Homo sapiens: one gene and its partner. The protein of the gene in region 1 interacts with the protein of each later gene in a pairwise test. Each region holds a gene or a part of one and is shown on either strand. Other genes may lie near its edges. The genes, in order: ZBTB5 and PTPN5.

Evidence for each region.
Region 2: the proteins of ZBTB5 (region 1) and PTPN5 interact in a two-hybrid assay, tested with the Homo sapiens proteins (one large-scale study listed by BioGRID and IntAct).

What each region holds. Positions count from the first base shown.
Region 1 is NC_000009.12:37,441,219-37,445,030, forward strand, and holds part of ZBTB5 (zinc finger and BTB domain-containing protein 5), read right to left. Parts: intron 1,338-3,812; 5' UTR 1,334-1,337; coding exon 1-1,333. UniProt on the Homo sapiens protein: May be involved in transcriptional regulation.
Region 2 is NC_000011.10:18,739,672-18,743,483, reverse strand, and holds part of PTPN5 (tyrosine-protein phosphatase non-receptor type 5), read left to right. Parts: intron 1-54; coding exon 55-162; intron 163-408; coding exon 409-492; intron 493-980; coding exon 981-1,222; intron 1,223-1,596; exon of another isoform or gene 1,597-2,691; coding exon 2,692-2,881; exon of another isoform or gene 2,882-3,060; intron 3,061-3,812. UniProt on the Homo sapiens protein: May regulate the activity of several effector molecules involved in synaptic plasticity and neuronal cell survival, including MAPKs, Src family kinases and NMDA receptors.

The DNA of each region.
Region 1 (3,812 bases):
GGGCCTCACTCTCCAGCCTGCAGTCACTAGTGGTGTTTGGAATATTATCATCATTGTTCTGATTTGCAGTAAAGTTATTTCCTCTGCTCTTGTTAAGAAAATTCGAAATACTAAAAGTGGACTTATGCTCTAGGTTATTTGTGACTTCCAAAATATGGATATCACCTACCCTGTCTGTGCTAGACTGGGGATCTGAAAAACTCCGATCACTGCTTTCAGGGCTGAGGTCTATCTTCTCGGCACTGACCACAACTCCTTCCACTTCCACAGACTCGCTGCCTTCTGCTTGTGAGGTCACATCGCTCACTTCATCCTGAGGCTCAGGTGAGCTCAGGGGCTCAGATTTAACCACCACTCTCATGTGCTCCTTCTCACCAAGGCCAACCTCAGGGTTTTCACACTGAAAACTACTTTTCTCAGGTGCAGCTTCCTGATCAAAACTAGTCTCAACCTGAGTTGCACGAGAGGCCATGGACAACTGTGCCATGTTGCCAGCACTGTTATCAGACTGGCTGGGCACCTGGGCATCTTCTTGAGTGCCAAAAGACTGATCAAACATGATCGCACTATCTTCCTGGTTATCAGTCATTCCATCAGCTTTAGGATTATCCACAATTTTCAGAGAATCTGGTGAAAAGAACTCCTCCCGAGAATGAACCCCTGAAGGCCCATTCTCCGGTGTAACATCTGAAATGGCAGACTCATCTATGGAGGGTCGGAGGCGCTGCCTGGCCCGCTCCTCTGCAGACTGCTTGCGCTTATGAAGGCGTCTCATGGGGAAGGGCGTGCGCTGATCCAGGTTACTGCGCATGGAAGAGCTCATGGGGGCTGGCTGCTCCTCGCCATTCTGGCTGGAATTGAGGGCTGAGCTCACGATGCTTAGTCCCAGCTGCTGTAGCATAAAGGAGCGCTGCATGCGGGCGCTCTGCTCCTGAACGCGCTCACTGGGGGGAGACATGGGCAGCGTCCTTGTCGTTAAGTAATGTTTACATGCCTTAACAACAGAGTTCAAATGCAGGTGAGAGGCTGCCAATAAGACATCCATTACATTGCTCTCCCCCAGCATGAGGGTGGAGGTATACATCATGTCAATCAGTGCAGCAAAGGCCTCTGCTGTCACCACCTCGCTATCCAGCTGGATCATGTTCATGGTCTGATCTCCTTCTGCCACTGAGAACAGGGCTCGGAAATGCGTGCTGCATGCTGCCAGCACGGAGCGGTGGGCTTTAAAGTGTCTATTCCCCACTACAATGACACAATCACAGAGCTGGCCATGAAGTCTCTGGTAGTTCAGCTGCTGGAAGATTTGTTCAAAGTGACCAGGAAAATCCATGATCCTACAGAAAAACAAAGAAAGAAAATGTTAAGACCTAGAAAAGCTTCAAAGTCAGAACACAAAGGGTATGATGAAAAGAGTGGAATGGATGGCCAAGCTTGGACCTTTGAAGCCCGTGATATCTCTGATAATGGGCACATACACTAAGAGCTTGTCATATAAGAAGCAAATGGCAATTCAGCCATCAGCCCAGGAGGCATGCACACATGTGGGCCTAGCTACCGACAGGCTCCCCTTTACTCTTCATATGAGCCATGTATAACACTAAGGGTCTAAATTAGTAAAGACCAGTGTGTGAGTGATGGCATATCTATCCCACAGAAGTTTGTTAGAATTCTGCATTCCCTAAGGATGAGGAATGAATACCAAGAAATTCCAAAGTCTTAGGAACCCTAAATAAGTGAAAAGGGCAAATCAATATTAGTGTGGAAGATTTCCAGTTATAGATGGTAGCAGATTGCACACACGCATTTGCCCCGTGCTTTTTCCTGAAACCCCACTAAAATGACACGAAGCCCGGCATGGAGGCTCATGCCTGTAATCCCAGCACTTTGGGAGGCTGAGACGGGCAGATCACCTGAGGTCAGGAGTTCAAGACGAGCCTGACCAACATGATGAAACCCTGTCTCTACTAAAAATACAAAAAATTAGCCAGGCATGGTGGTGCATGCTTGTAATCCCAGGTACTCGGGAGGCTGAGGAGGCGGAGGTTGCAGTGAGCTGAGATCACACCACTGCACTCCCAGCCTGGGCGACAGAGTGAGACTTCATCTCAAAGGAAAAAAAAAAAAAACACTAAAGTTTTTGTTTAAACTTTAAAGGTGTAAACCCACAAGGAAAAAGAGAATGAGAAGGCCTTCAATAGCATTTTGGAAGCTGGGGAGAGGTAAATGAGTGCTAACTGACTCAGCACACCCCAAAAGCGAAAATCCTAAACTGGGCAGCGGATAAAACAACCTAACATATATAAATCTCATTCCCAAAGGCCAAGGAACTGGTTGCCCTTGCCAGGGGAAATGGAATGAAGGTGTGGCTAAGGCAGGAGGCCTGGCTGAAAATCTATCCAATTAAAAAAAACAAAAACAAAAAAACACCAGGATGTGGTGGCGCATGCCTGTAATCCTATAGCACTTTTGGAGGCTGAGGTGGGAGGATTGCCTGAGCTTAGGAGTTTGAGACAAGCCTGGGCAACAAGGTGAAACCCTGTCTCTACCAAAAATACAAAAAATTAGCCGGGCATGCTGGTATGTGCCTTCAGCTACTCAGGAGGCTGAAGGGGGAGGATCACTTGAGCCTGGGAGGCAGAGGCTGCAGTGAGCAGAGATCGCACTGCTGCACTCCAACCTGGGTGACAGAGTGAAACCTGTCTCAAAAAAAAATTAGCCGAGCATGGTGGCGTGCACCTGTGGTCCCAGCTACTTGGGAGGCTGAGGTGGGAGGATCACTTGAGCCTGGGAAGTCAAGGCTTCTGTGAACTGTCACTGGGCCACTGCACTCCAGCCTAAGCAACAGAGCAAGGCCCTGTCTCAGAAAATAAAATAAAAATAAGTGAATGAATAAGAGAAGGAATTAATCAGGTCCAATATCTTGACTACAGAAAGAGAAAAGGAAGAATACAGAGGGTGAAAATGATGTAAGAAATGGTTTTTTGTTTTGTTTTTGAGACAGAGTTTCGCTCTGTTCCCCCAGGCTGGAGTACAGTGGCGCAATGTCGGCTCACTGCAACCTCCGCCTCCCGGGTTCAAGTGATTCTCCTGCCTCAGCCTCCTGACGAGCTGGGATTATAGGTGCACGCCACCACACCCGGCTAATTTTTGTATTTTTAGTAGAGACAGGGGTTTTACCTTGTTGGTCAGGCTGGTTTTGAACTCCTGACCTCAGGTGATCCGCCCACCCTGGCATCCCAAAGTGCTGGGATTACAGGCATGAGCCACTGCGCCCGGCCAAGAAATGGTATTTTTTAAATTTTGAGAACTGAAGAAATTTGCTTATTAAGACTAAAAAGGCCCAACAAGTACTCAAAATATGAAGATACAAATCCCCACACTAGGCTGACATCAGGAATAAAATTGGCATTCGTCTTTGCCACAGCAGCACTAAAAGCTAGAAGATGACAGTTCCTTCAAAATTATCCAAGAAAATGATTTCCAACTTAGAATGCCACACCCAGCTAAACTATTAATCAATTAGGATAAACTAAGGCATTTTCAGATAAGAACCCAAAGGTTTATCCTTTCTCAGGAGGCGACTAAGATTGTAGGAAACAGGAGACCCACCAGAGAAGACAGGCAAAGGGAATCCCAAGGATGATGATGAAGCTCCAGATGACAACTAGGCAGCAGGCCTGGAGAGCAAAAGCAGTCAGACTGGAGCAGGAAGGACTCCAAGGAGTGGGTCTCCAAGGGGGGTGGGAAAAAAAGGAATGGATAGATAACCTGATGTGACTGGGAGTGCTTGTAATTTACCAGTCCTATCC
Region 2 (3,812 bases), on another chromosome or scaffold:
GAACACGGGGGAAGGGGGCCGGCTCCATACTCAGCCTGCTCCCCTGTGCCCCAGCTTGCCTGTGGGGTGCTCTGGTTCAGCGGTTATGGCCACATCTGGTCACAGAACGCCACAAACCTCGTCTCCTCTTTGCTGACGCTCCTGAAACAGCTGGAACCCACGGTAAGTAAGCTTTGGGGAGTCCTAGGGTAGCAGGGATCTGTTGGGGGCCTCTAGTCCCACCCTCCCCAACCTCCAGATTGGGCTTCTCTGAGTTCAGAAGATACTTCCAAGCCCCTGAAGTTCTTCTGCCTGCTCCCCATCCCAGACCTGGGACGTGATTTTCAGAATCTTGGTTTTGTCATCATTGCAAGAGCTGAGAACTCTGCCCCCACCACCACCCTGACCTGTTTATCTGATGTTCCCCAGGCCTGGCTTGACTCTGGGACGTGGGGAGTCCCCAGTCTGCTGCTGGTCTTTCTGTCCGTGGGCCTGGTCCTCGTTACCACCCTGGTAAGGCGCCTCCTGACCCCAACCTCAAGGCTGTCCTCCTCTGACCTTGAGGCCTGGATTTCTACCAGCTCCCATCTGACTTATAGGCTGGACATTCTGGGTGGGGCAAGGAGGGATACCTATCTCTTTGCACAAGTGTGCCAGCCTGGGGCAAGAGCCTCCTTCTTTCCGAAAATTGGTTTGCAGTGATCTGGGCTAAGGAAAGGGGATGAGACAGGGAGAAGACTGGTGTAGGAACTCCCAAGCCCCACTGAGAAGGCCTGAAGCCACAAGAAACAGAGAGCTGGGAGAGGGAGGGGCAGGGAAGGAGAGTGGGCATGGAGCCTCCCATCGAGGCCAGGGGCAGTGCCTTGTGGACAACTCCCAGGAGAGCAGAGCTGCTCTAGACACACTGAGGGAGTGGGGGGGCGTCAATCCCATGGGCACTCCAGGAACACGGGGGGCAGCCAGCGTGGTCCGAAATCTGTGATGCTGTACACCCCAACCAGGTGTGGCACCTCCTGAGGACACCCCCAGAGCCACCCACCCCACTGCCCCCTGAGGACAGGCGCCAGTCAGTGAGCCGCCAGCCCTCCTTCACCTACTCAGAGTGGATGGAGGAGAAGATCGAGGATGACTTCCTGGACCTCGACCCGGTGCCCGAGACTCCTGTGTTTGATTGTGTGATGGACATCAAGCCTGAGGCTGACCCCACCTCACTCACCGTCAAGTCCATGGGTCTGCAGGAGAGGTGGGAGGGGTGGAGGAGGGGTGGGCTCCACGGGCCCTTGAGCTCTTAGCTCCTGATCAGAAGAGTGGATGCCTGACTCTGACTCCTGGTGCCCAGGGCAGAGCTGGCCTTATAGCTTAGCCAGTGTAGACATGTGCTATCCAGGTCATTCATAGAGATCAAAGTGCCCCAAGATGAATGCTGAGAAATACTGTTACTGCACACGCACACATAGGTGTACACATGTTCACACACACTCTCCCATGCTCAAGTAAGTTTGGGTGGTTTTCTTTGCTGCAGGACTTGTCAGGGCCTTTAACATGCTTATGTTCATTGTAAATCAGCAAGGGGGCAGTATGTGGCATTTCCCAAAGTCACTTGACCACGGAACTCTATTTTTTTGTTTTACTTTTATTTTGGATTGAGGGGGTGCATGTGCAGTGTTGTTACCTGAGCATATTGCATAATGCCGAGGTTTGGGGTACAAATGATCCCATCACCCAGGTACTGAGCGTAGTGCCCAGCAGTTAGTTTTTCATCCCTTGCCCGCCTCTCTCCCTCCCTCCTCTAGTAGTCCCCAGTTTCTATTGTTGCCATCTTTATGTACCTGGGTACCCAATTAGAACCTGTTTTTATAGGGTAGCTCATAGTGTTCCACAGAGCACACTTTGAGAAGTGTAGACACCCTCGTTTCAGAGTCTAGGTGGGTGAGCCAGATCACACCAAATTTGAGTTACCCATGTGATGTCACAGAAAGAACACTGGGTGTGGAGTCAGGAAACCTAGCTTTTTATTTCAGCTCTGCCACCCCCTTACTGGGAGAGCCTGGACAACTCTTGGCCCTTCATGGGGACTCAGTTTCTCTTTCTATGTAATGAAGCCCCATCCTGTCCTGTGTCTGAGACTCTGAGTATAGTAGAGTTTGCCCATTGTAGACATCCTTGCGGCCACCGTGCTGCTCCTGGGACTCCCTCCTTCCTGACAGCGGGGGTCCTGGCCTCTCCTGGACAATATGTCCTTGACTCACCAGCAGCCTCATCCCAGGGCTGTTGGGCCCGGGACTGCAGTGGGGAGGGTCTGGAGCCATCCTCTCGGGCCCAAGCCCCGCTTCTGTGCTTCAGGCAGGTGTCCCCTCTCTGAGCTTCCTGGGGACCACAGGGTAGAACTTCCTCCAACGGTGATGGAGGAGAGTCCAGGGTAAGGCCATGTTGGGGTAGCTTTGGATGGAACTTTTAGAACTGGAGCCCCAAATCCCCACTAAGTTAACATCTCCACTGCAGGAGGCAGGAGATAGGGAGTCAGGCCAATGCCTCAGGGCTGAGATTCACGCTTCTTTGTCAGGGGGTCTTGTCACACTCCCACTCCTCTTCCTCAACCCCACCCTGTTCCCAGCTGATCTCTCCCTCCCTCATTTTCCCAGCCCTGGAGACCCCAGCTCATGCCCGTCCCTCTGCCCCTGAGGCTCACACTCCCTTTCCTGGTCCTTCCAGGAGGGGTTCCAATGTCTCCCTGACCCTGGACATGTGCACTCCGGGCTGCAACGAGGAGGGCTTTGGCTATCTCATGTCCCCACGTGAGGAGTCCGCCCGCGAGTACCTGCTCAGCGCCTCCCGTGTCCTCCAAGCAGAAGAGCTTCATGAAAAGGCCCTGGACCCTTTCCTGCTGCAGGCGGAATTCTTTGTGAGTTCCCTTGAGCCGGTCGCCCCACTGTGTGCAGACCCATGTCAATCATCCACCTGCCCAGGTGGTGGAGCGTGGTGCCTGGAACTCAGCATCTGCAGTAGATTAGTATCACTTTATTATCAGCTCTCCCACCATCTTGGGCAAGCTGCTTTCCCTCTGAGCTTCAGTTTCCTCATCTGGAAAATGGGGATGAAAATAATAGAATTGTTGCAAAGATTAAAGAGACTTATAACATGTGCAGAGCACCCAGCCAGGTGATGGAGGTACAGTGACAATGCTAAGTCTTTATTGCCCAGTGCTGTGCTCTGAAAGCCACAGAGAACCTTCACTTCTAACTCTTCTGTTTTCCCACTTTCCTCCTGCCGAGCATTGTTCTTCTGCCTTTGAAATCTCTCTAGTGGCCTCCCCTCGTTACCACCCCTGGGGCCCTAGCTTAGGTCCTAATCACCTCCACCCTGGCTTCTGCAGCAGCCTCCAGCTGCCTCCTATTGGACTTTGAGGGGCTCAATAAATGGCACCCCTGTTTACCTGCCTGAGTGCTCAGCCAGTTAAGAGCTAAGGCATAGGAGATTACAATATCACCTTTGTTGTCAATAAAATACAGGTTGGAAATGTGGCTTAGCAGGGTACAGCAAGAGTGAGCCTCCCGATACTGAGACCCAGAATTACATGCACTTTCCACCCTCCACAGGGGTGCCGGCACATCTCGGACCTTGCCGCATGGGGGCACCCCTATAATTCTTTCCTGGCAGGAGGGCCCTGAGAGGAGGAGGAAGGAAGGGGCTGAGGCTCCAAAGCTCCATTCCTCAACCAAATTCACCAAACAGGTAACTCCTCACTTCTGTGAGCAGGAAAAGGCAAGAGGCCAAGAGTATCTGGGGTGAGTTCCTCCTGGTAGAAGCCACAGGGGTACAGAAGCAGGTGCCTC